Homo sapiens: one gene and its partners. The protein of the gene in region 2 purifies or fractionates together with the protein of the main gene of each other region. This does not show direct contact. Each region holds a gene or a part of one and is shown on either strand. Other genes may lie near its edges.

Evidence for each region.
Region 1: the proteins of BMPR2 (region 2) and PRKG1 purify together in Homo sapiens (co-immunoprecipitation; one study listed by IntAct). This does not show direct contact.
Region 3: the proteins of BMPR2 (region 2) and ENG purify together in Homo sapiens (affinity purification with western blotting, with the first as the bait; one study listed by BioGRID). This does not show direct contact.
Region 4: the proteins of BMPR2 (region 2) and MIB1 purify together in Homo sapiens (affinity purification with mass spectrometry; one large-scale study listed by BioGRID and IntAct). This does not show direct contact.
Region 5: the proteins of BMPR2 (region 2) and DLK1 purify together in Homo sapiens (co-immunoprecipitation; one large-scale study listed by IntAct). This does not show direct contact.
Region 6: the proteins of BMPR2 (region 2) and GCGR purify together in Homo sapiens (affinity purification with mass spectrometry, with the first as the bait; one large-scale study listed by BioGRID). This does not show direct contact.
Region 7: the proteins of BMPR2 (region 2) and MYH11 purify together in Homo sapiens (affinity purification with mass spectrometry; one large-scale study listed by BioGRID and IntAct). This does not show direct contact.

What each region holds. Positions count from the first base shown.
Region 1 is NC_000010.11:51,080,987-51,084,486, reverse strand, and holds part of PRKG1 (cGMP-dependent protein kinase 1), read right to left. Parts: intron 1-3,500. UniProt on the Homo sapiens protein: Serine/threonine protein kinase that acts as a key mediator of the nitric oxide (NO)/cGMP signaling pathway. GMP binding activates PRKG1, which phosphorylates serines and threonines on many cellular proteins.
Region 2 is NC_000002.12:202,382,827-202,386,326, reverse strand, and holds part of BMPR2 (bone morphogenetic protein receptor type-2 precursor), read right to left. Parts: intron 1-3,500. UniProt on the Homo sapiens protein: On ligand binding, forms a receptor complex consisting of two type II and two type I transmembrane serine/threonine kinases.
Region 3 is NC_000009.12:127,816,659-127,820,158, forward strand, and holds part of ENG (endoglin isoform 1 precursor), read right to left. Parts: intron 3,380-3,500; coding exon 3,242-3,379; intron 3,003-3,241; coding exon 2,964-3,002; intron 2,175-2,963; coding exon 2,058-2,174; intron 2,054-2,057; exon of another isoform or gene 1,942-2,053; intron 1,732-1,941; exon of another isoform or gene 1,720-1,731; coding exon 1,462-1,719; intron 1,200-1,461; exon of another isoform or gene 1,101-1,199; intron 686-1,100; exon of another isoform or gene 546-685; coding exon 491-545; exon of another isoform or gene 1-490. UniProt on the Homo sapiens protein: Vascular endothelium glycoprotein that plays an important role in the regulation of angiogenesis. Required for normal structure and integrity of adult vasculature. Regulates the migration of vascular endothelial cells.
Region 4 is NC_000018.10:21,743,792-21,747,291, reverse strand, and holds part of MIB1 (E3 ubiquitin-protein ligase MIB1), read right to left. Parts: intron 1-3,500. UniProt on the Homo sapiens protein: E3 ubiquitin-protein ligase that mediates ubiquitination of Delta receptors, which act as ligands of Notch proteins.
Region 5 is NC_000014.9:100,729,892-100,733,391, reverse strand, and holds part of DLK1 (protein delta homolog 1 isoform 1 preproprotein), read right to left. Parts: intron 1,351-3,500; coding exon 1,209-1,350; intron 1-1,208. UniProt on the Homo sapiens protein: May have a role in neuroendocrine differentiation.
Region 6 is NC_000017.11:81,802,662-81,806,949, reverse strand, and holds the start of GCGR (glucagon receptor precursor), read right to left. Parts: upstream 2,801-4,288; 5' UTR 2,701-2,800; intron 2,293-2,700; exon of another isoform or gene 2,205-2,292; intron 1,801-2,204; exon of another isoform or gene 1,717-1,800; intron 1-1,716.
Region 7 is NC_000016.10:15,847,029-15,850,528, forward strand, and holds part of MYH11 (myosin-11), read right to left. Parts: intron 1-3,500. UniProt on the Homo sapiens protein: Muscle contraction.

The DNA of each region.
Region 1 (3,500 bases), on a different chromosome or scaffold from region 2:
GTAATTAACATTATTTTATTTTTGATGCAGGTGAAAGTAGTATATCTTGGTAGTAAATTGTCACTAATTTCTTCTTTTTATATGAACTCCCATCCTTTCATAGGTTGGAATAAAAGAATGCAAAGACACAGATATTTTCCCAGTGTCCTACCACCAACTTCTGCCTATCATTCTGCTTCTAACTGCTAAGTCATAATAATTAAACACATGTTTTTGGTCATGTTTTTCATTGTTTCTAATTCCTCTTATCCCTCCCCAATTACGCGCAATAACCAAATGCACTCCATGAAGCTGGATTCATAATGAAAGTGTTTACTTTACTTATGATTAACTTCCCTGCATAATTAATGTCCCCAATCCTCCGGGTAGCCTTATTACATCTATTCTGTTTTAACATACTATCTGTCAGCTGAATACATTTTCATATTTTAGGAGTGGGGAAAAGACAGAAAAGCTCCTTGCTGACTCCGATTCTAAGATTATTTTTATCAAAAAGTATTTGCAATTATATTAGCTATTTTCATTGCTTATATAAAGTGCTATATTGGCTGATCCTCACCTGAGAAGGTAATGATTAAATTACAAATGTAAATAGGCTCCTAGCAGAGACCATTAGCAACACCTTGAGGACTTTGTAACAAGGATCTAAGGGGACAGAGGGCAGGAAAGACACACAGAGCTGGCAATAGGGGCAGCAGTGAGGTCTGACCACAGGGTTTAGGAATTCTCATTTCCCCTGGAAGTCTTCATGAGGGACACACCAAGATCTTTTATTGCAGGTGTCGTCTCCGACCTCTCAACTGCCAGCAATGCCCAGATCTGTCCACTTAAACCAAGCCTCCTGGAAAGGGGGCTGAAAGGTTGATGTGCTAGTTCTGCTTTCTCTGAAGTCTCCTCGGAAAGTACTCCTCAGCCTGAGCTCACGCTGTTTGCCTTAAAAGGATAAAATATCTGTAGGAAAAAAAAAAAAAACTGTAGCTGGCTGCAGAGACATCACATACCAAGAGAGACGCTACAAGCCCAGGACTGCTCTTCCAAGAGGCGCTCATCATTGTTTCACCTTCAACTTAGCATTGGATAGCAGGAGCTGGGACCCAAAGAAACTATCTGGCCACAGAGGCAGCTGCCCTCAGCAAGAATTTAAAAACAAAACAAACAAACAAAAAACTTGGGATGAAAGCTGATCCTAATGTGTGTCACATTTGAAAGTGGCCAGGAACCCTGGCTGGCAGGAAAGGGGAAACAAACTTACCCACTGAACAGAGCTGCTGCCACTTTTGTGTGCCCCAGGTCCTTAACAGGTAACCCCAGAGATTAAAGTGATGCTGATAGGTTCAGATGCTAGGGAGATTGGGGAGCTGAAGCTGCCTGGCTCCACTGCAAGCCAGGGACTTGGGTTGCTCAAAAAGAAACAAGAAAGGTGCTTCCCCAAAGAATAGGAATTCAAGTAGTCTGTAACAATCAACAATGAATGGGTCATAGCAGAGGTTTCTCAACCCTGGCTGAATATTATAATCACTTTGGGAGTAAAAATAATATACCTATACCTCAGGTCTACCCCAGAGCAATTAAATCATAGGCTCTGGAGGTGGTGCCCAGCAAATGTATGTTTTAAAGCTCCCTAGGTGATTGTAACATACAGCTATGTTTGAGAACCAATGGGCTAGGTAGGGAAATGATCACTTGTTTAGGAGAATAAACAAGAAGGCATCAACTAAACTACACGTACAATTTGTCTACACGTACAATTTGGCAAAAAAAAAAATCCAGCTATGCTTTCGCAGGCCCCTAGTGCTTAAAGGTTTTAGCCAATAGAGACATTCAACTCTTTAGATGAACACTTTATCCTGGTCTTTTGTTTAATATCACACACAAATGTACACACACAACAAACACACACACTCCTCTTGTCATCTTCCTATTAGAGTGGTTATCAAATTTTGCTACACGTTAAAGTTACATGGAGAATCATCAAAAATTACTGATATGTAGCTTCCAACACCCGGACATTCTGATTTTAATTGGTTTGTGGTACAATCTAGGAATTGGATTTTTATGTTCCCCATGTGATTCTAATGCGCAGGAAAGTTTGGGAACCGCCGTCCTACATTATTTCTTCCACTAGTCCCAGAGTCCTTCTGCTTCCTATTTAATTATTGGTGAACAGATACACCCCAGAGAATGACCTATATGTTATTCATAAAGTTTTCCTGCAGCTACCTAATCCCCATGACCCTTTGGGCAGTAAGAGAGCCTAGTGGCTAAGGAGAAAAGCTCTGGAGCTCAAATTCAGGCTCAACCTAGTGTGACTGTGGGCAAGTTGCTTCACTTCTCTGCGCCCCAGAGTTCTTTTTCTCATGCTGTGAAATTGGGATAATCCAGAATCTTCCTCATAGGGTTGTTTTTGTCCTAAAAAAAAGATGATCAGGTGGGGTGCGGTGGCTTACATATGTATTCCCAGCACTTTCTTTGGAGGCCCAGATGCTGGAGAATCATTTGAGGCCAGAAGTTCAAGACCAGCCTGTGCAACTGAGACCCTGTCTCTACAGAAAAAAATTAAAAATTATCCAGGTGTGGTGCTATGTGCCTATAATCTTGGCTACTCTGGAGGCTGAGGCAAGAGGATCACTTGAGCCCAGGAGTTTGAAGCTGCAGTGAGCTATGGCTGTGTCACTGCACTCCAGCCTGGGCAATAAGACAGAAAGAACCTGTCTCAATCAATCAATCAATCATTCAATCAATGAAAGAGACAATCTATATAAAGCACAGGAGCAGTGCCTGGCACAGAGTTAGTGCTCCATAAATGTTACCCAATCTGATGATGATGAGCAGTGTAATTCTTGATGCTTTCATTCAGAAGCAGGATGCACTGAGTTGTTGCCCTTATTCTTGTCCTCTGCACTGTTGGCTGCACAAACACCACCAAGTCCTCAATGATGTCAAATTAAGGAGCATTTCAAAGGGACAATACAATGCATTCAAAACAAGCACTGGTCTAATGGGAAACTATCTTCAGTATAGCTCCCTAAGAAGGCAAGCCTTCGATATACTCTAATTTGGGTGTCTCTTCTCTATGGCAGTCTTCATCCATAAAGTACTATCTTACTTGCAAGCTCTTTTCCAGTCTTGTCACCTATTTACTTGCACACAAAGCCTATCACTATTTTCCAACTTCCTTGCAAATATGGCATAGTTTTACCAATACCCATCTCGTTTCGCCCTTTCTTGTTCCCTCGATATGCATTTCTTCTTCTCACTCTACTCTCCAGCTTTTTTCATTGCTTATAAATTTCACGCTTAAAATATAGGCAGCCTCTAGAAGCTGAAAAAGACAAGATATGGAGTCTCCCCTAGAGCCTCCAGAAGGAATGCTTATATGAATTTTATAAGCAATGAAAAAAGCTGGAGAGTAGTATGCTTATAAAATTCATTCAGAAATAAGACAGTTTTGAGAGTGTACTATTAGTTCCACATTGTGTTAAACATCTGTTTTGTGTAGC
Region 2 (3,500 bases):
TGGACAGGTTAAGTTTGTGATGAATATCAGACATCCAAGTAGATACGACAGATACACAGTTGGCTACATGCAACAGAATTTCAAGGAAAGAAGTCTGAGATAGAAATAAATTTGAAACTTGTACGCCTTTAGATGCTATTTAAAGCCATAAAACTGGATGAGATCACCAAGAGGGTGGGTGCAGACAGAGAAAAGGTCTAAAGACTGAATCCTGAAACACAACATTTAGCCATCAGGGACATAAGGAGGAACTATCAAAGTTGCTGGTGAGGTAGGAGAAAAATCAAGAGAGAATAGTATCTTAAAAGCCAAATGAAGAAAGTACTTGAAGGATGAAAAAAAAGGATTAAATTGGCTCATGCTACAGATAGGTCAAAACAAGAACTTGGAAATAAATCAAACAACAAGCAGGACATACGCACAGAAGTATTAAATATGGCATTGTTTATTAGAGAAGAAAATCGGAAACAACCTAAACATCTCCCAATATGAATTAAGTAAATAACAAATACACTCAATGGAATATCACACAATTATGAAAAAATGATAGTTATTAAGATCACATATACATGACTATATTATTCTATGTAAAAAAAACAGATATAATTAATAGATATTATAAAATCACAACCATATAAAAATACATGCTTTTTTTTTTTTTTTTGCCAGGCGTGGTGGCTCACGCCTGTAATCCCAGCACTTTGGGAGGCTGAGGCGGGCAGATCACGAGGTCAGGAGTTCGAGACCAGCCTGGCCAACACAGTGAAACTCCGTGTCTACTAAAAATACAAAAACTAGCCGGACATGGTGGCGCACACCTGTAGTCCCAGCTACTCGGGCGGCTGAGGCAGGAGAATCGCTTGAACCCAGGAGGTGGAGGTTGTCGTGAGCCGAGATCACGCCACTGTACTCCCACCTGGGCAACAAAGCGAGACTCCGTCTCAAAAAAAAAAAAAAAAAAAAAAGCATCTTTTTTTTAATTAGAAGAAAACATACCAAAACAAAAAGTGTTAGGGTTGTGTGAAGATTAATATTTTTTCTCTTAATTTTTCAAATGAAAACAAAAAAAAAAGCTTGCCCTAAAAGGTTAGCCTGGTGTGTCTACTACAATTACATAGATTTGCTCACAGACTATTCTTATTTACAAAAGCAAAGACTGAACACAGATTAATAATAATAGAAAGTCTTAACTATTTCCTCATCTAAATGAAACAAAAAACTGAAGAATTTGGATTACTGGCCAAATATTTATACATCCCTTCACACTTATCATTAACACATTTTGTTCTAAATTTTCCTATTTTGCACTAAACTTACTGGGGCAGAATGAAAGTACATGATCATGTACATTTTTGACACCAATTATAAGGGCAAACTACTGTCTTGAAGGAGAAAGGGGAAGTGAGATCTGGTTTTAAGAAACTGAAATTTCTTGGCCAGGTGCGGTGGCTCACGTCTGTAATCCCAGCACTCTGGGAGGCTGAGGCAGGCAGATTACCTGAGGTCGGGAGTTCGAGACCAGCCTGACCAGCATGGAGAAACCCCGTCTCTACTACAAATACAAAATTAGCTGGGTGTGGTAGTGCATGCCTGTAATCCCAGCTACTCAGGAGGCTGAGGCACAAGAATCACTTGTACCCGGGAGGTGAAGGTTGCAGTGAGCAGAGATCTTGCCATTGAACTCCAGCCTGGGCAACAAGAGCAAAACTCCGTCGAAAGAAAGAAAGAAAGAAAGAAAAGAAAGAAAAGAAAGAAAAAGAAAGAAAGAAAGAAAGAAAGAAAGAAAGAAAGAAAGAGAAAGAAAGAAAGAAAGAAACTGAAATTTCTCAACCTCCATTTGCATCTAACCTTCCAGAAAGAGATGTGGATCAAATACCTAACTGTCCCAAATACCTAACTCCATCTAAAATTCTTAGGCCAATGCCTCTGGCACAATACTTTATCATGTCTCATAATTTTTCCACCAAGTCCACCGTCGACACATTTAAGACGTGAATGATTGCACACATTTTGCACTATATCTTGATAATTTGGGTAATGTATTTTAAACGTTACTGATGCACAAGGCAGGGTTAAGGTACAGTGTTGGGCATTGTGATTCTAGGCATGCATATAATCTTTCATATCAGTGTTTTTTTGTTTTGTTTTGTTTTTTGAGATGGAGTTTCACTCTTTTGCCAAGGCTGGAGTAAAGTGGCACAATCTTGGCTCACTGCAACCTCTGCCTACTGGGTTCAAGTGATTCTCCTGCCTCAGCCTCCCAAGTAGCTGGGATTATAGGCGCCCGCCACCACGCCCGGGTAATTTTTGTATTTTTAGTAGAGATGGGGTTTCACCATGTTGGCCAGGCTGGTCTCAAACTCCTAACGTCAGTTGATCCACCAGCCTCGGCCTCCCAAAGTGCTAGGATTACAGGTATGAGCCACCAGGCCCAGCCAATATTAGTGCTTTTGAAAATAGTAATTTTTTTTTTTTTGAGATGGAGTCTCGCCCTGTCACCCAGGCTGGAGTGCAGTGGTACGATCTCGGCTCACTGCAACCTCCGCCTCCCAGGTTCAAGTGATTCTCCTACCTCAGCTTCCTGAGTAGCTAGGATTACAGGCATGCACCACCACGCGTGGCTAATTTTGTTTTTTTCTTTTTTTTTTTTTTTTGACAGAGTTTCGCTCTTGTTGCCCAGGCTGGAGTGCAAAGGCACAACCTCGGCTCACCACAACCTCCGCTTCCCAGGTTCAAGCGATGCCTCAGCCTCCCGAGTAGCTGGGATTACAGGCATGTGCCACCACACCCGGCTAATTTTGTATTTTTAGTAGAGACAGGGTTTCACCACGTTGGCCGGGTTGGTCTCGAACTCCTGACTTCAGGTGATCAGCCCACCTTGGCCTCCCAAAGTGCTGGGATTACAAGCGTGAGCCATGGCAACTGGCCTAATTTTGTATTTTAGTAGAGACGGGGTTTCACCACGTTAGTCAGGCTGGTCTCAAACTCCTGACCTCAGGTTATCAGCCCGCCTTGGCTTCCCAAAGTGCTGGGATTATAGGTGTGAGCCACAGCTCCCAGCCAAATTTTTGTATTTTTTGTACAGCAGGGCTGGTCTCGAAATCCTGACCTCAAGTGATCCGCCTGCCTTGGCCTCCCCAAGTGCCAGGATTACAGAGTAAGCCACTTCGCCCAGGCCACACTGCAAATTTTTAAAAGGAAAAGATTTTGGGTAATTGCTTAATGCACAAATTAAGAAATGTTTGTTCCTAATGTTTACCAGATTAAGCAATAAAAGATATAGATTAAGTAGTAATTACCACAAAAAGTAGAAATAAAGTTATAGAACTTGAGAGTTAGAAAGAATCTTAGATCCAGTAGTTCTCAAAGGTACCTAAAATTTACTGGCTGATGAGGGCATCAAAGGCAGATTCCCAGGCTCGTTGTCCAGAGATTTGGATTCAGTAGGTCTAGTGGGGTACCCATGAATCTGTATTTCAAAATGATCAAGTACAACCCCA
Region 3 (3,500 bases), on a different chromosome or scaffold from region 2:
TAGGTGCCCCCATCCCTCACCCCTGCCTCTGCCACCAGTGTCGGGACTCTTCTGCCTGGTGTGGGCCTGGGCCTGGGGGGAACTGATGGAGAGGCTAGAGGGGGCGTCCTGCAGGGAGAGGCCTCAAGGAAGGCAAGGCCAGCACCCACCCTCAAAGGGCCTCTGTCTCACCCAGGAGACTCCATCCTCCCAGCAAGGTCAGCCAATAACTGTGGGGATGGAGTGGAGCCGTGAGTGGGGGCAGAGGCCTAGACTCCCACCCCACAGGGCGGTCCCGGGCAAGGGCTCTCCATCTGCAAAGTGCAGCTCTGGCCCCTGCTCTAGGCTGCTATGGCTCTGGGAAGCCCTCCTCCTGCCCCTTCTGGGCCGCTTTCTCTGGGGTCCCCCTTGCCATGTGCTATGTGCCCAGGCCGTTTCTCAGGGCTGCCCGCTGTGCCCTACTGTGACCTCAGCCACTAGAACAAACCCGAGAGACCTGGAGGGAGCTCACCAGACAGGTCAGGGCTGATGATGTTCAAGCGCATGAAGACAGTCCTATGGACTTCCTGGAGGAGAAAGAGAGAGCAGTATGTGGCACCTTTGGGAGGCGGCTTCCAGGTTTACTCCCTGGCTCCGTGACCCCAGCCCACCCTAGAGCCTTGGCTTTGAATCCCATCTCCACCGCTTCGTAGCTGGATGCCTCTGGGTGAGTCCTGGAAGATCTGTGCTGTGGGAGGGTGCCTAGTGGACGATCCCTGGCTGCTGCTGAAATGTTTCCTGTGAGTTCCTGGAGGCCTTGATGCCCAGGAGCACTGTGGAAGCACTATGCATCCCTCACCCTTGTGAACACTTTGGAGCTATGAGCCAGGTCAGCCCAGAGTCCCAGGCTCACTCTGGCTGGAGGGAGAGGCCCACTTAGGGGAGTTGAAGGCTTCCCTAGCTTCCTATGACCAGAGAAGTTTGTAATCCTGGAGGCCTGTCTGTGCAAGGGCCTGGGGGTGACTCTGGGGGCGTCCAGGATAGATTGCCTGAGAGTGGGGGTCACCAGATGGTGAAGTGTTGTGACTGGCAAATACAGAAAGCCAGGAGTGTGTGTCCTTTGTCCGCCTCTCTTCCCTCAGGTCTCCTGTTCTTTGAGATTACACTGGTGACCATACTACATGGATGTGCGGGTGGTTAGATTCCTGGGTGGGAGGGTGGATGGATGGATGGACGGACGGGTAAGTGAAAGGATGGATGGATGGATAGATGGACAGTGGCAGCTGCATAGTCTGCCAGTGCCCCAGACACAGCAGTCCCACCAGAAAGCTCTCGGGTGGCAGAAAGTGCTGCTGGCAGCCAGACTGCCAGGCCACATGCCTGATTAAGGCTCCGCCCCTCACCAGCTGGCCCCACATCCCTGTGGGCTGCCATGTCCCTTCCTGCAAACCACAGACCTGGAAGCTCCCACTTGAAGCTGGGGCCGGCCCAGGCCCCACTCACCTGGTCTTGAGACCCGGTCTTGGGACGCAGGGCTACCGTGCAGCTGAGGGTGCCGGTTTTGGGTATGGGTACTGTGTAGAAGTGGAGGAGGAAGCTGAAGCGCGGGTCACCCTCGGGGCTTGGGGACAGCAGGCTCACACAGTTGCCCTTGGCCGCCCGGCCCTGGATGAGTTCCACGGTGCCTCCCTCAGGCCCCAAGTCCAGGTGGCAGCTGTCTAACTGGAGCAGGAACTCGGAGACGGATGGGGACACTCTGACCTGCATGGGTAGGTAGGGCCACGCGGCATGGGCAGCTGCTCTTCACCCCACCCCACCTGCTGCCTTCAAATATCGGCTAGAATTAAGAGTTCCCACCCCTGAGTCCTCACAGTGGAAAGAAAGACATGGACCTGTCTGGGGCAGAGGAGGAGGACAGGGCCACATCCTTGTCAGTGTCCCTGAGCAATGCCTTCTCTGTCTCTCCCTCTCCCGTGCACCCAGGCTGTCTCCCTCCTGACTCTGGGAGTCTCATCTCCTCTGGAGTCATGGTGGGAAGAAAGGCGGAGAGGAAGTTCCAGGAGCTGGGAGGCCCGAGGGGTGACAGGCATGCCAGGTACCTGCACAAAGCTCTGCTGCCCCGGCTCGATGGTGTTGGAGGCCTGGAGGAAGTGTGGGCTGAGGTAGAGGCCCAGCTGGAAAGAGAGGCTGTCCATGTTGAGGCAGTGCACCTTTTTCTGGGGGAGGACGGGAGGGAGACTTGGTCAATCTGGCGGCGCCAGCCAGGAGGGCGAGGGGTGTGGGGAGGAACAGGCATCATGGCCCTGTGGAGTTGCCTGACTCTCTTTTTTTTTTTTTTTGAGACGGAGTCTCGCTCTGTCGCCCAGGCTGGAGTGCAGTGGTGCGATCTCAGCTCACTGCAAGCTCCGCCTCCCGGGTTCATGCCATTCTCCTACCTCAGCCTCCCAAGTAGCTGGGATTACAGGTGCCCGCCACCACGCCCGGCTAATTTTTTGTATTTTTAGTAGATACGGGGTTTCACCATGTTAGCCAGGATGGTCTCAATCTCTTCACCTCGTGATCTGCCCGCCTCGGCCTCCCAAAGTGCTGCGATTACAGGCGTGAGCCACTGCGCCCGGCCCTTTTTTTTTTTTTTAAACTAATATTTATCAAGGAGGCACCAGCTGCCAGGCTGTGTGAAGAGCTTCCACACAGCACCTCATTGGCTGCCCAGAAGCACCCTGTGGCGCAGAGTCCTTTCTTAGGCCACCTTTGGGCCCAGAAAACTAAAGTGACTTGCCCAAGGCCACACAGCCAGTATGTGCTAAGCCCTCTGACTTGAGAGACCAAGAGCGTCACCCTCAGCAGTCCTGCTCCGGTCATACAGAAGGGGAGACCGAGGCATTCCAGACACACATGGCTTGCCAGGAGTTTCCCGAGGCCTGCTCCCTCCCAGGCCAGGAAGAGGCCCCGGCCCAGCAGCAGCCCCTGGGCCAGGTGGGTTAGCACGTGACTGTCCATCTCACCCGCTGTGGTGATGAGCTCGACAGGATATTGACCACCGCCTGCGGGGATAAAGCCAGGGAGCTGGTCAGAGCCAGAAAGGACCCCAGAGGGTATCCCACCCAATACGCCCATTTTTGCAGATGGGGAGACTAAGCCAACCAATGGCCAAGCTTGTCTTGTGTTCTGAGCCCCTGCAGCCTGCTCTCCCAAACACACCTCCACCCTGGGGGATCAGGGAGGGCACCTGAGGGGGCACCAACCAGGCTGGTCCTGATACCTTTTTGGCCCCAGCTCTTACCTCATTGCTGATCATACTTGCTGACACCTGCATGCCACAGCTGGAGTAAGCACTGCGCAAGACAAACTTGTCACCCCTGTCCTCTGCCTCACAGCTGGGGTCCCAGAAGGTCAGGCCCGTGATGGTGCACTTCAAATGCTGGGTCGGAAGAGAGGGGCACCATCAGGAGGCACTGGGGTCTCTGTGGCCTGCCACACCCCAGCACCAAGGACTGACCACAACCCAGGGGTCCCAAGTCACAGCCATTCCCCTGCCCTGC
Region 4 (3,500 bases), on a different chromosome or scaffold from region 2:
GCTCAACCAAGCTGCAATCTACAGGGACTATTAAGAACTAGATAGACTTTCATAATTTACAACATTGTTTTAGTGGAGGAAATAAAATAAGAAAGACATTTTACAGAAGCCTTTAAAATAGGTAGGATCTATGAGGAAATAAAGTTTTCCTTGCAGATGTCATTAATAAAAAACATTTTGTGATATTTCATCCTTTCCAGGTGTGGCATCCTGCTCCCCAAACATTGTTCCCTCAAATCCTGTTTTTTCCTACGGCTTTGTGTCCTGACAAATACCCCTTTCTACTGTGGTTCTAGAAACAGATCAGAATAGGGGACTCTATTCTGATAAAGAAAAGCTGAGGATTATTAATTCATTTCATTTTTTTAATCCAGGGTCAGCCCTTTTAAACCTTCAACTGAATACAAAACATCTGAGAAGTTTTTCCACGTATGACTGGAGAGGCATTCTTTGCTAGCGGTCAAAGACAAGGACAAAGAACTACCCCCAAAACAGTTTGAATGAACTATGACCAGAAGCTGGTTTTGAATAAAGCTGATTTTCTATACCTCTAACTCTGTATTATCGACACGAAGAATGACAGAACCTTAACAGGAAATCTACATTCATTTTCTCCATTATCTCTGGTAACAATACAACACTGTAGTCAAGTGAACACAAAGCAAGCATAAATAAAAACACATTTTTCTCCAACTCCTATAAAATCAGTGCCTAGATGATAAAAAGTCAACTATACCTACTTGACTACAGACTTTACAAAATTAGTCCAAACTAATTAAATAACATCCCATATAGTCCCAAAATCTTCTTGCTCACTACAAATGAGCCAAATGAATCTCGAAACAAGACAGACGTTATATCACTCAAACAGATACTAAATGCTCCTCTCTGCAAAGTTTAACTATCCTAGACCATAAATTCAAACATATCATGTGTGTCCTGAAAGAAAAAATAAAGCTGATATGCCAAAATATTAGAGACCCGCATACAACTCCCAGACAAAATCTTCAAAATGTAGTGAGAAAAATCGTATCAGAAAGATTCACAATGATCCAACCACTCCAGAATCCTTAACTCCCAGAAAAGTTGCAAGGAATCTTATGCTGAAGGTTACCCATTTCTTAATTCCCAATCATACTGCAATAAATTTTCTATTCATATAATATAGGTGGAACTAGGGAACAAATGATGAATAATCAAAGGCAACCTCAGTTCTCCCTCTGATAAATATAAGGCTTTTTTTTAAATTAAGTACAAAAATATGACACACACAAAAATATAGAAAGGGCTGGGTGTGGTGGCTCACACTTGTAATCCCAGCACTTTGGGAGGCTGAGGCTATGGATCACTTGAGGTCAGGTGTTCGAGACCAGCCTGGCCAACATGGTGAAACCCCGTCTCTACCAAAAATACAAAAGTTAGTCAGGTGTGGTGGTGCATGCCTGTAATTCCAGCTACTCAGGAGGATGAGACAGGAGAATTGCTTGAACCTGGGGGACGGAGGTTGCAGTGAGCCGAGGTCACACCACTGCATTCCAGCCTGGACCACAGAGGGAGACTGTCTCAAAAAAAATAAAATTTTGTGTGTGTGTGTGTGTGTGTGTGTGTGTGTGTGTTTAACACCTATGCACTCACCATGGGGTAGGTTTAATCACAGAACATTACCAAAATACTTAAATGCCCCTGGTGTACTTCCACCAATCGTGCTCTCCACTCCCTTCACCATAAGGATGTCCCACTCTCTTAAATTTAGTGTTTATCTTACCTTTACGTGGCATACTTTTACCACGCATGTACATATCCCTAAACCAATGAGTCTCAATTGGGAGCAATTTTGCCCCCACTAGGGGACATCTGGCAATGTCTGGAGATATTGTGGGTTGCCACAAGGAGGTGGGGTGCTACTGCTGCTAATGGGTAGAGGCCAGGGATGCCTGCCTACAATGCACAGGACATTCCTATAACAAAAAATTATCCTATCCAATTCAAAATGTCAATAGTGCCAAGGCTGCAAAACCCTACCCTAAAATAGTTTTGTTCCGCACTTTAACAGACCGTAGGTTTTCTTTTGCAACTTACTTTATTTGCTTAACATTCTCTTCTATACAGTACTGCACTATACAAATTCATACAACTTATCCAGTCTCCTGCTAAGGTACATTTAAGTTTTTTCCAATTTTCTGTTTTTACATGCAACACTGCTGTGAACATTCTTTTTTAAATTTTATTTATCTCAAAACCATAGTAACTGCTGTGAACATTCTTATACAAGCTTCTATGTGCTCAAATAGAGATTCTCTCCAGGGCAGTGACTTTTAAAGTGTTATTCTTCAACCTCTAGGGAAATCCTCAAGACCCTTTGAGGGACTTCATGAAGTCAAAAGTATTTTCACAATAATATGTAAGATACAAGTTATCTTTTTCATACTGGCATCACATTGCTGGTACAAAAGCAACAGTTGGTAAAATTCCTGGTGACCTAGCCGAGTTAACGCTATAATTAATGAGACATACGAACACCATGTACCTCCTGGTACGATGCACTAACAAGGGCAAAACATCATTTCTATGATATTCTTGCCGAAAATACATAATCTGAATTTAATCATGAAAAAGCAGCAGAAACACCCAATTTGAGAGATAACAAGATTGTTTTTCATTACTTTGACACTGACTAAAGACTGAGGAACTCACCCAGATTGGAAGAGACCACTAAATGCAACGTGTGATCTTGGATGAGAAAAAGAATACTAGTAGGACACTAATAATAACCACTGCATATAATTTGAATAAATAAAATTTGAATAAGGTGTATAGATTAGTTAATACAGTATTACCGTATTAGTGTTAATTTTCTGGTTTTGATCATTGTACTTGCTAAGATATTAACAGCTGAAGAAGGTGGGTAAAGGGCAAAAGGCAACTCTTACTAGTTTTGTAATTTTTCTGGAAGACTACAATTGTTTCAAAAACAAAAGTTAATTTTTAAAATGTTAATATTATGCAAATAAATATCAAGTACTTAATAAATATTGAGTAATCTTATAGAATGTAATAAAATGTCAGTGAACACTGATTATTAAATATTTTGAAGAAAAAGGAAAACACTGAAAGTAGTATTATAGTCCTGGGGCAAAACAAGAGCCAGGAGCTTACAATTTTGCTCAGTTCTAAAAAAAAAAAAAAAAAAAAAACCCTGAAGAATTTAAAAGGTTGAAATTAAAATATATTTCAACAAGTATTTCATATGAAGGTTGGCTATCCTGCTCTTAAAATGTTTGTTAAAAGACCAAATGAACAAGATAAACCACTACATATAACAAATTAATGTATAAAATTATCTTATTAAACTAAGATTCTAAAACAGTTACTTCTGAAAAACATCTACGTTTATATTAAGATAATAAAACTATTAATATGATAGATACACCCCATACTACAAACATATAGATAACATTAATGTCCCTTCAAAAATCACCGTAGTAAAGAATCTGTTACAC
Region 5 (3,500 bases), on a different chromosome or scaffold from region 2:
GCATTTAATGTAAGTGCTTTTAAACGAGCGAGCCCTTTGTCATCCGATAAATGGCAAAACTCCGGGGAAGAAGGGGCAGTAAACACAAGAAATCAGCACTGCTGCTTCAGGGTGTGGGCTGCATGGGAGCTGGGCTCTGAAGGAATTTCAAGGGCCTTAGGCTCTATTTTGACACACTGGTTTAAGTCCATTCGCGAGAAAAGCAAAATATTTTAAAGGTCTCGCTCTGTTTTTCTCCTTCCTGCTAATAAGCAGAAATGGAGTTCAGTCTTCACCAGCCCCCACTCTGACCCCGTCTGAAGACTGATCTTTGGAAGCCCCGTTAATGTCTGTTTACAGCTCTTACAGACTACTGGGGTCTCTGTGCCACCCTGCGATGTCCGGTCAAGATAAGCTTATTTGCATGTTAGCTTCTGTTTCTTCAGAGGAAAGGGACACCCCTGCCCCCCAACTACAGGCCCAGGACTGGGTTCAAGTTTGGATTCTTACATTCGGACCCTGCCTCTGTCAAGATCTCCCTTGGCTTCAGGCTAAGCCCCATCCAGCGGGGAGGGATGGCTCAGGGCCGCCAAAGAGATAATGGGTGGGCAGAGGCTGAGCTGCTGGGAAGCATTGTTCAGGGAGGTCCAAGTGAAGACAGTGGCCACTCTGTCTGTTATGTCCGCTGCCCAGGAGTCCCAAAGCCCCCTTCCCCACTGAGGATAGCCGACAGCTGGCCCACCTCCTCTCGTGCTGGCAGAAGCCCAATCTCTTCACCTCTCAGCCTGGCAACTCCCTCCACAGACATCCCAGAAAATCCAATTGCAGAGCCCACCAGTTCCCCAAAACCACCCCCTGAGATACAGCAAGTGGGTTTCACAAACAGCCTCAGCCCCGCGGAGCTCCAATCTTTTACTACGTTGCCTTTAGAAAATTACGCAGCTCCGAGTGTCAGTTCATCATTCCGATCGACTGTCACTCACACGCATCGGGACTTGAGAACATCAGGGGAATATGAAATCGCCTTCAGGATCATTTGAAAAAATTATGGCAATGACACATTCCCCCGTGAATACTCCCATCCAGGGCGGTCCCCTACGGGGCTGCCAGGATGAGCGCTTACTTCATCTTTTGTCAGACGACAGGTCCAGCAGGGTTAGGCTGAAAGGGTCTTTGGTGGCCGCATGAAAAGCAGCATTCATTAGATCACACACAGGAAGGATATTTACCCGTTGATCACACAGGGCCCGTCCTTTTTCTGGCAGTCCTTTCCCGAGTACCCGGGGGCACAGGAGCATTCATAGAGGCCATCGTCCAGGCTCACGCAGGTCCTGTTGTTGGCACAGGGGGCCGAGGAGCAGGCCCGAACATCTGCGGGGTGACGGGGAAGACGAGAACTTAGCTTCCTCTCCATACACGAGCGTGATGCGGGCCCCAGTGGGCTTTAAAATGGCTCTATGGCCACCGAGTGGGGTCTGGAGTAAGAGGGTTTAGGGAGCCCCCTCAAAAAAACCCATGAAGTGAGTAAGCTGAGGCTCAGGAAGCTGAAGGGGTTTCCTTGCCTAAGGTCACAGATCAGAAAGTCGTGGCCACTGATATTCAGGCCAGGATAGCTGTTCCCTTTGCCTGGCACCAGGTCACCCCATATCCAGCGACATGTCCGTGACGTTCACTGTGGACATCATGCCCCTCCCTGCAACAGCGTGCCTAGCTGAGATTCCCTAAGGCCTGTCTCCACCAGACAAGACTGCATCTCCACCCTCTCCTGTTAGGGGAGGGGTCCTGGCCAGCCGGGGGATGAATACAGCCCAACCCTCAGAAAAACCACCAGCTCTTCATACTTTTCCATCAAAGAGGGGCAGTGGGGGGGATGGAGATGTAACGACCCCCCTCCGTCAGGAATCAAGAAACCTGTTAACCCCAGCACTACCACGTGTCCCTGTGGTCTCTCTTTCTGCACTCAGGCTCTGAACTCAAGGGGTCCCTGGTAAAAAGGCTTCATCTTTTAAAGCCAGGGAAATTAGAACTATTGAGCGCTCTCCTATCAGCACAGGTTTCCATGAGCACTGGTATATTCCCACCATCTTTTAACACCTTCCATCACGCACACTTCATTATTCAGGTTCAGCAAGCCAGGGATGAGCTGAACACAAGGGCCTGAGTCAGGGGCTCTCTGATGATGGAGACCCCAGCTCCCCAGTGGGGCCAGGAAGGGACCCCTGTCCTGCCCTGTATCCGGCCTGCTGCCATGTGGCAGCAGAGTTCAGCTCCTACCCATTCTGGGCCTCAGTTTCCCTACTTATAAAAAGAGGGTCTTTCCCTGGCCAATCTCTGAGGGACTCTTCAGCTTTGATTTTCTATAATTTGAGCTGCTGTACCTGCCAAACAGAAAGCCAGGGCCAGTGAGAGACACAGCAAGCTAAGGCAGGCTGGAGGGGGTGGGGGGAGGGGAAATCCCCCGTGCTGAGGCCACACATGTGCGTATTTTTTCCCCCTCTCAGAGAGACCCACACCCTCGTGGAGGGGAGACTGCAATCAATCAAGGAGGAAGAGCCTGAACGTTGTGTTGATGGACTACCCCGTGGTGTTCCATGGAAGCCCGGCTTGGTGCAAGGACACATAAAGAGGATTTATCTTTACGGGACGGCACCGGCAAGGCATTAGCACGTGGCGCCTCCGCGTCAGGCTCCTTATTCTCTGCACCCGACTCTCCTGTCACTCAGAATCTTAAATTTAAGCTAAAAAGCTGGCGACCACCCCCAGCTTGTCCCTGCAGCTCTCCCTGCTATGCCAATCCTGGATCAGCCCTCCTGAGCCTCCAACCCCAAGACAGGGGTGAATTAAGCTGCTCTGAGGAAAAGGCTGCTTGGGGGTCTCTGCTGGGACAGCAGCTGTGGCCACGACAGCCTCAAAGATGGGCAAAAAGGGAGAGGGAGGGCTATGTCTTCTCTGGGACCCCAGACTCTCTGGCCATCCCCAAGCTGGCTGCCTTTGTCAACTTGGTGGGGAGGGGACATACCAAGGGCCCATGAGAAGGGAGGCATTTGTCCGGAAAATTTCAGCAAGGGTGTACGGCATTTAGATACCAAAAAGATGGGCTCCAAGCTAAAAGCCTAACCCTGATCCCAAATGGTGGCTTTGCTGGAATCCCCCAGATCCTCAAACGACTCAGAGCTGCTGCCGCTGCTTCTGTGAGGGGCAGCAGAGATGCTGGCCAGAGCATGAGTCAGCTGCGGGTAAACCTTGCACCATATTGCAGGGGCTGGAATTAAGGACCAGAGACAATTTGGGGTGGGAGGGAGCTCAGCTTCAGAACCACGGCTGCCCTGGCTGTACAGGGCAGGGGCCACAACAAAATGCTCTTAGGTGTTCCTTAAGGAAGGATGTTAGATGCAATCGAAGATAAAAATTAACTCTCTTTCTGGGGCTGGGGGAAAGGGTTGTAGCTGGCTTTTTGCCCAACTTCTTTCATATTCCTTAGCAGACACTTGTGCTTCTCTGATCCTCAGTTTCCCTATCTG
Region 6 (4,288 bases), on a different chromosome or scaffold from region 2:
AGGGGTGCAGGGGAGACCTGGGGCTCTGGGCAGGGGACGGGGAGAGGGACAAGGGGCAGCTGGAGCAGGGTGGATGGTGGAGATGCAGGCGGGGGACAAGGAGGAAGGACACTGGCCAATGAGCTGTTCCCTGCCTGGGCGCCTCGAAGTGGGGGTGGGGGGGGACGCGTGCTCACCCTGGGGGGAGGACCACCCAGCCAGGAGCTCCCTGGGCAAAATGACAGCCCCTTAGAGCCCAGCGTGGCCAAGCCTGGCTCTGCCCCAACTCTGCCAGAGAAACAGGAGCCATTCGATGCCTGTCATGTTGACTCTAGAGCCACTGGGAGCACCCCCCAAGCCAGTGCCTCCACACATGAGGTCCTCGCGTGCCAGGGCCCCACCTTCCAGCCGGGCAGCCAGTCTGGAGACCCCAGCGAGCCGAGGGAGGGGTTGGCTGCCCAGTCCCCCAGGCCTTTCTTTGAAACAGTCAGGACCCAGGAGTGGGGCTCTGTGTCCCCTCAGCCTCAACAGAAGGTTGGGAAGGTGGGGCTGGGGATCCTGGAGGATTCCCCCGACAGCTCAGCATCCACAGGCCACAGGTGGGCTCCCCATAGGGCACCCCTAGTCCCGGATCCCTAGGGGTCAGGGCCTCTGAATACAAGAGGTGAGGTGGGAGGCAATTCTCCACTGGGTCTCTGATAGTGAGGCAGGAGGTGCAGAAGTGTGAGCGTCCTCCGTTCCCTGCGGGTGGTGGGTCCCATATGGGTAGGGAGACTCCAGCTCCTCACCCCAACAGGGGTGGGTGGAGCCGGGGGGGGACCAATTTCCAGCTGAGCACCCATGAGAGAGCCTGGCCTGGAGAGCAGGGCTGAGGCTGCTGTGGTCCTGGGACGGGGACGACGATTTAACTTCCCAAGTGGGGACCCTGCCCCATCACTGAAGGTGACACCAGCCTGAAGGGAAGAAGGGAGGCTCCTCTGTTGATCTCACCCAGCCCTCTCCCCCGAGAGGAGACACTGACACCCCCGGGCCCCGGTCAGCCCAGGATCAATGTTTGTTGACTGAAGGAGTGGACAGAAACTCCCAGCTGTGGAGCTGCCACTCGGGGCTCCCCGGGGCCACAGTGCTCCGTATTACCCTTCCGGCGACACAGCTGGTAGGTGGGACGACCCACCAGGGACCCCACCCTCCACCTTCACAGTCCAGGTGACCAAGCTCCTTCTCAGGCCTTGGAGTCAGCTGAGAATTAGGGGAGGGGTTCCCAAGGTGCCCAATAGGGGGGGTTCCCGAGGTGCCCAATGTGGGGGTTCCCGAGGTGCCCAATAGGGGGGTTCCCGAGGTGCCCAATGGGAGGGTTCCCGAGGTGCCCAATGCGGGGGTTCCCGAGGTGCCCAATGTGGGGGGTTCCCGAGGTGCCCAATGGGAGGGTTCCCGAGGTGCCCAATGTGGGGGGTTCCCGAGGTGCCCAATGGGGGGGCTCCCGAGGTGCCCTGCCCGCCTTCTCTAGACCCCCACCGCATGCCACCCCCTTCCTCCCTCCCACAGCTGCCTGCCGGGCCACACCAGCCACCACCAGGGCTTAGGGCCACCTGAGCTCCACTGCCCCGGCCGCTTTGCAGGGCTGGCACCCCGTGTCCTGTCCCATGTCCTCCCTGGCAGAACACGTGACTCTTGGGCGCTCCTGGCTGCGTCAGGCTCCACCGATTCCCACTGGGGGCGGCTGAGGGACCCGCAGACCTGGAGCTGGGCCCCCAGGATGGGTGGAGCGGCCACTGGTCCAGGAAGGCAGCGGGGCTCCCAGGGCGTCCGCAAGGGGCCTCTCAGACGCTTTGAGGAGCTCCGGGATGGGAGCCGGGATGTTTTTGTGAAACCAGAGAAGGTAGTGGAAGGTCAGGGCACCGGGGCGGGATCAGGGGCCACAGGCTGTTGACAAAGCCCTATCCCTGCGCCCTCACCCCGTGGGGGCGGGGCAGGCGTGGGTGCACCCAGACCCCCCAACCCTGATGTCCCCAATACCAAGGGCAGAGAGCAGCCCTGGCCGGTCCTTGGAGGATGCGGGCGCCGAGGGGGCCGGGGTCAGTCGGTTCAGAGTCGGAGCATAAGCCCGGTGGCCGAGTCGGCCGGGTGGTGGGGCGCCGGGGGGGCCGGAGCCGGGCAGGGCAGTGACCCGCTTGCCGGGGTCAAAGTCGCCAGTGTGGGCCGCGGAAGAGGAGCGGCCAGGCGGGGCGCAGACACCCCTCACCCCATCCTGGGCCGCGCCGGTGCCACCGGGCAGTCCTCGGGGCAGGAGCCCACCGAGGGGAGACAGCGCTGGTGAGACCCCGCGCCTCGGGGACGCGTCCGCGGCGCTTTGTGCGCTCCCCAGGGCGGCGGGGCCCGGGGCCCTGAGTGGGGAGTGTGGCCGCTGCAGTGTGGCCGCCGCAGGGCGCCAGGCGGCCAGCGACACCCCCGCCCCCAGCCGCGCCCCCCAGGACCAGAGAACGGGGGAGGGGCTGAGACCCCTGGACCTGCCCGACGGTGCAGGACCGGGTGGTGTCCGAGCCGGGGTTGGGAACGGGGGTGTCTGACGGGACTGAGGAGCGCACCAGCCCGGACCCCGGAGACCGCCCGGCCGGCTCCCCGCTCCCCGCGCCCCCGGCCCCGCCGCGCCCGCCCCGCGGTCTCTGTCCCCACCGGGTCGACTCCCCAACGTCCCCTCGGGGCCGCGGCCCAGGTGCTCACCGCGCGGCGCTGCTCGGGGGTCGGCTTGGCTCCCCGCCGTCCTCTGGGCGCGCTCGGGTCGGGCGCCGGTGACCGCTCGTCTTCGCGGCGCTGCCAGATCGGGGTCGGTGCAAACTTTCCGGCGGCGACGCAGGGCGAGGGCGGCGGCGGAGGGCGGGCTCGGGGGCGGCCCCGCGGGGGTGGGAGCGGCAGCCGAGGGTCCCCGCCCGCCCTCCGCGCAGCCTCCCGGCGAGCTTCGGTCCTGCCCACCCTGCGCAGGGAGCGCCTCGTACCCCGGCCATACGCAGACTCGGCGCGCTGAATTCCACCCCGCGGACCCGCGCCCCACAGACCTTTGTCCCACGGGTCCTGGTTCCGCAGACCCTAATCCTGCAGACCCCTGAGCCCGCGGACCCTGGCCCAGCAGGTGGTGGTCGCGGTGGGTCCCAGCTCCGGGAGGGGACGCCCTGGGACGCGGAGGGGCGCGCGGGCGTGGGGGCCGTGGCTCAGCCCCCCTTCCTCTCGCTCCCTCCGCCTCCCTGGGCGCCCCCTCGCCCCCTTCCTCTCGCGTCCCCGGGTTCTCGCCCCTTCTTTCCTGATGCCTGCCTGATTTTCTGGAAAGACCGACACCCCCAGTCGCCCCCACCGCGGCTCCCGGTTCCTTCCCCTGCAGAGCAGACGGGGGCTGGAGTAGGGGCCAACATGGGTGACATGGGTGGACCGGCAGGGCGGTCCCTGGGGTGCCCTTTAACTCTTTCTGTGCCACATCCCCGGTCTCTGGCCAGTCCTGTCGCGCTAAGGCCCCTCCAGCAGCGCTGACCCTGGTCCCCCACCTGCTGGTCCTGCGGCCGCGGGGCGCTCTCTCCTCCGTCCCACCCGCTCCTTCCACACCACCTCCTTTCCTGGGAGTGGAGAAGCCCCAGCCAGAACCCCTGCCTTCCCCAAGAGGCACGCTCAGAGGGACATTCTCCCCTTCCTCACTCCCCCTAGAGCCACATCACACCTGGCTTTGGGGCCCTAGAACCTCAGCCCGCGCCCCTCCCCTTCCACCCCCAGCCATCCCTGCTCTGTGCCCAGTGATCTTGGGGTCACCACAACCCCATGGCGCCTTGAGGCCTCACCTTTCCTGGCCTCTCAGCATCCTGGGACACTGATGGTCATGCCTTCCTTCTAGAAAGTTCTCTCCGAGGCTGTGGCTTCCAGGATGAGCACTCTCCTCCTCCCACTTCCTCCCCTTCTCCTTCCCCCTCCTCCCTTCTCCCTGGAGAGGTCTTCCTCCAAGTCCCAGTCTTCTTCCCCACCCAGAGCCCCTCCCGCTGACACTTGTCTGCAGTGCCTGTCTCCGCTCCCGCTAGGAAGCCTCCCCTCCGGCATCTCCAATCCATCTCTGGGTCCTGCTCCACCTGCATTTCCCTAGACCTGTCCTGGCCACCCTCACCCTGGGACACCTCCTGCCCGTGGAGAGCTCCTCTGATAGGTGCCGTCCTTGGTCTTGGGGGTCCTTTCTCCCTAATTCTACTTCTGTTTTGGGGGCGTGGGAACCCAGGGTCTTAACCCCAGCCATTCCCCCTCCCAGGGGCCACTTCCCTCTGAAGCTTAGCCCAGCTCT
Region 7 (3,500 bases), on a different chromosome or scaffold from region 2:
AAGTACACTTCATTTTCCTTCCCTCTTATCTTTAATTGTGGTAAAATACAGCTAACATTCACCACCTCGGCCACTTAAACACAGTTCAGTAGCATTAAGTATATTGATATTCTTGTGCAATAATGAAGAGTTTGTGCAGATGGTAGCCAATTACATCCCAAGAGGGCTAGGAGAGTGTTTCATTTGTTCTAAGCACTATGACAAGTAAAGTGGACTTCTTTTTTTTTTTTTTTTTTTTCTGAGACAGGGTCTTGCTCTGTCGCCCAGGCTGGAGTGCAGTGGCATGACCTCAGCTCACGGCAACCTCCGCCTCCCAGGCTCAAGTGATCCTCCCACCCCAGCCTCCCAAATAGTTGGGACCACAGGCACCTGCCACCATGCCCAGCTATTTTCCTGTATTCTTTGTAGAGACGGGGTTTCACCATGTTGTCCAGGCTGAGGTCTTGAACTCCTGACCTCAAGTGATCTGCCTGCCTCGGTCTCCCAAAGTGCTGGGATTACAGGCATGAGCCGCTGTGCCCAGCCCTAAGTGGGCTCTTCCTAATTGCCATGTGGATGAGTTGCCTTAAAAGTCAGAAAAAATAGCAAAAGCTACAACAGAAAAATAAAAGGACACGCACGCCTCCATTGCCTGGGACCCTGTCTAACCTCAGACTTAAAAACACAAACAAGATCAAGTGCAAAGATTCAGTCTCTGTACAAAAAAGGAGAGCTTGGAGCAGGCTGGATTCCCTCTGGCTTTGATGTCTCTGACAGTTACGACGTGCAAAATCTGCTTTGGTCAAAAGACAGCAAGATGGGGGATGAGAAGCTTCGACTCATGCTAGAATGGTGTTTTCCATAGCATGCCCCTTGGAACCCTAATTCCCTGAAATATCTGGGCTGGGGTGGAGCTGCGGAGGTTGAGAAGCTCTTCAAACAGTGGCGCAGTCAAGGTCAAATCCATCTGGAAGGTGCTACATATTCCCCTTTCCCTCATTGAGACACAAAACACACAACAGGACACTTGAGTCTCTGGCAGATCCGGAAACCTGAAAGCTGTTTTGCTCCTACGAGCCTTGGGTCCCCAAAACAACATTTAGCCACAGATTTGCCAAATGTTTTGAGAATGTTTTCCTAAAAATTTGCCAAATTTTTGAGAAAATTCAGTGAGCCTGACAAATTAATAATACTAATACTAGTAATAATAGTTGCTAAGTCTTTTTTTTTTTTTTTTTTTTTTGACACAGAGTCTCGCTCTGTTACCCAGGCTGGAGTGCAGTGACGCAATCTCAGCTCACTGCAACCTCCACGTTTCTGGGTTCAAGTGATTCTCGTGCCTCAGCCTCCCAAGTAGCTGGGACTACAGGCATGCGCTACCATGCCTGGCTAATTTTTGTATTTTTAGTAGAGATGAGGTTTCACCATATTGGCCAGGCTGGTCTTGAACTCCAGGCCTCAAGCAATCCTCCCACCTTGGCCCCCCAAAGTGCTGGGATTACAGGCGTGAGCCACCGCAGCTGGCCACAAACTCTGCACTGTGACTCTTGGGCTGCGTCATTCTGTGTCGTGAGGGGAGCTCTTCCGTGCATTGTGGGATGTTCCGCAGCATCCCTGGTCTCTGCCCACCTGATGCCAGTAGCACCCCTTCCTCCACTCATGACAATCAAAAATGTCTCCAGACACTGCTAGATGTCCCCTGGGGTGGCAAAACTGCTTCCAGTTGAGAACCACAGCTTTAGAATAAAAACAAGGGCTGTCTTGGGAAAGGCAGTTAAAGCTGAGAGCAGCTCTCACTTAGTCAAACTCAACTCGGAATACCAACTGCAGAAGATCAGACGGGGGCAAGGTGAACACACTGGACCAGAGACGGACCGCCAGTTGGCCCAACCCCAGGGACACTCTTCATCTACCTTGATGCACCTTCCCAACCCTCCCTCCTCCACCATCGCTCATGTTTAAGGTCCTGCATCAGCTCCAAGGGCTGAAAGGACATCTCTGAAATTACTACCCAGAACTGCTGACCACGAAGTACAGTTCACTCATCAAGAGCTGCTCTCAATGTTTTTGGTTGGGGGAAGGGTCTCACTATATGCCCAGGGTGGAGTGCAGTGGTGCAATCATAGCTTACTGCAGGCTCAAACTCATGGGCTCAAGGGATCCTCCCACCTCAGGTGTGGGCCACTATGCCCGGCTTATTTTTTGTAGAGATGGGGGTCTTGCTATTTTGCCTAGGCTGGTCTCAAACTCCTGATCTCAAATGATCCTCCTGCCTTGGCTTCCCAAAGCTCTAGGATGACAGGCGTGAGTCACCTCGTCCAACTTTCTCGAATGTTTGGATGAAAACAAATGACTCTGTCACCTTTGGCATTAGCGATGTTTGACACATCTGAGTGTGTCAGCCTTGTTTACAGTCCTGTCCTGACCAACAACTGCTTCATTCTTTTTTTTTGAGACAGGGTCTGGCTCTGTTGCCCAGGCTAGAGTGAAGTGGCGCGATCTCTGCTTTCTGCAAACTCTGCCTCCCAGGCTCAAGCCATTCTCCCACCTCAGCCTCCCAAGTAGCTGGGATCACAGGCACGCACCAGAACACCCAGCTAATTTTTTAATTCTTGCATTTTTTTGTAGAGACAGGGGTCTCACTTTGTGGCCCAGGCTGGTCTCAAACTCCTGAGCTCAAGCGATCTGCCTGCCTCAGCCTCCCAAAGTGCTAGGATTACAAGCATGAGCCACCGCGCCCAGGCTGCTTCATTTTTTGAGCACAAACAAGCTAATCATTAGCCTCTGGAAGACCTTAGGATGTCAAGTAACGAGTCTCAGCTTTGCCCCAAACCTGCTGGGTGACTCTGGACAAGTCACTTGCCCTCTCTGGGCCTTGTATTTTTCATTTAGGGAAAATAAATCAATGGTAGGCTGGCCCAGCTCTACCATTTTATGGGACCCGTCTGTGACTCCCAGTCAAAGGGCTGAAACTGGACCAACTGAGAATGTCAGGTTGCTTTAGTTTGTTTTACCATCAGTTTCATTTTTCCCAGAAGAACTCAGGGGCAAAAGATCTTGCCCTCTCTGCTTCAGCATTAATAAAAAGTAAATTAGGCCGGGCATGGTGGCTGATGCCTGTAATCCCAGTACTTCGGGAGGCCGAGGCAGGCGGATAACCTGAGGTCAGTAGTTCAAGACCAGCCTGGCCAACATGGTGAAACCCCGTCTCTACTAAAAATACAAAAAATAGCCAGGTGTGGTGGTGGGCGCCTGTAATACCAGCTACTCAGGAGGCTGAGGAAGGAGAATCGCTTGAACCCAGGAGGTGGAGGGTGCAGTGAGCTGAGATCCCATCACTGCACTCCAGCCTGGGCGACAAGAGCAAAACTCTGTCTTGAAAATAAATAAATAAATAGTAAATTAAATATCCCAGAGCCCAGAGAGTATAGGATTTGCACATCACCTCACCTGGTCAACAGCTTCCCTCAGGATTTTACTGCCAAGCCATTGGCTAAAGATTTTGGACCAGAGACAAAAAC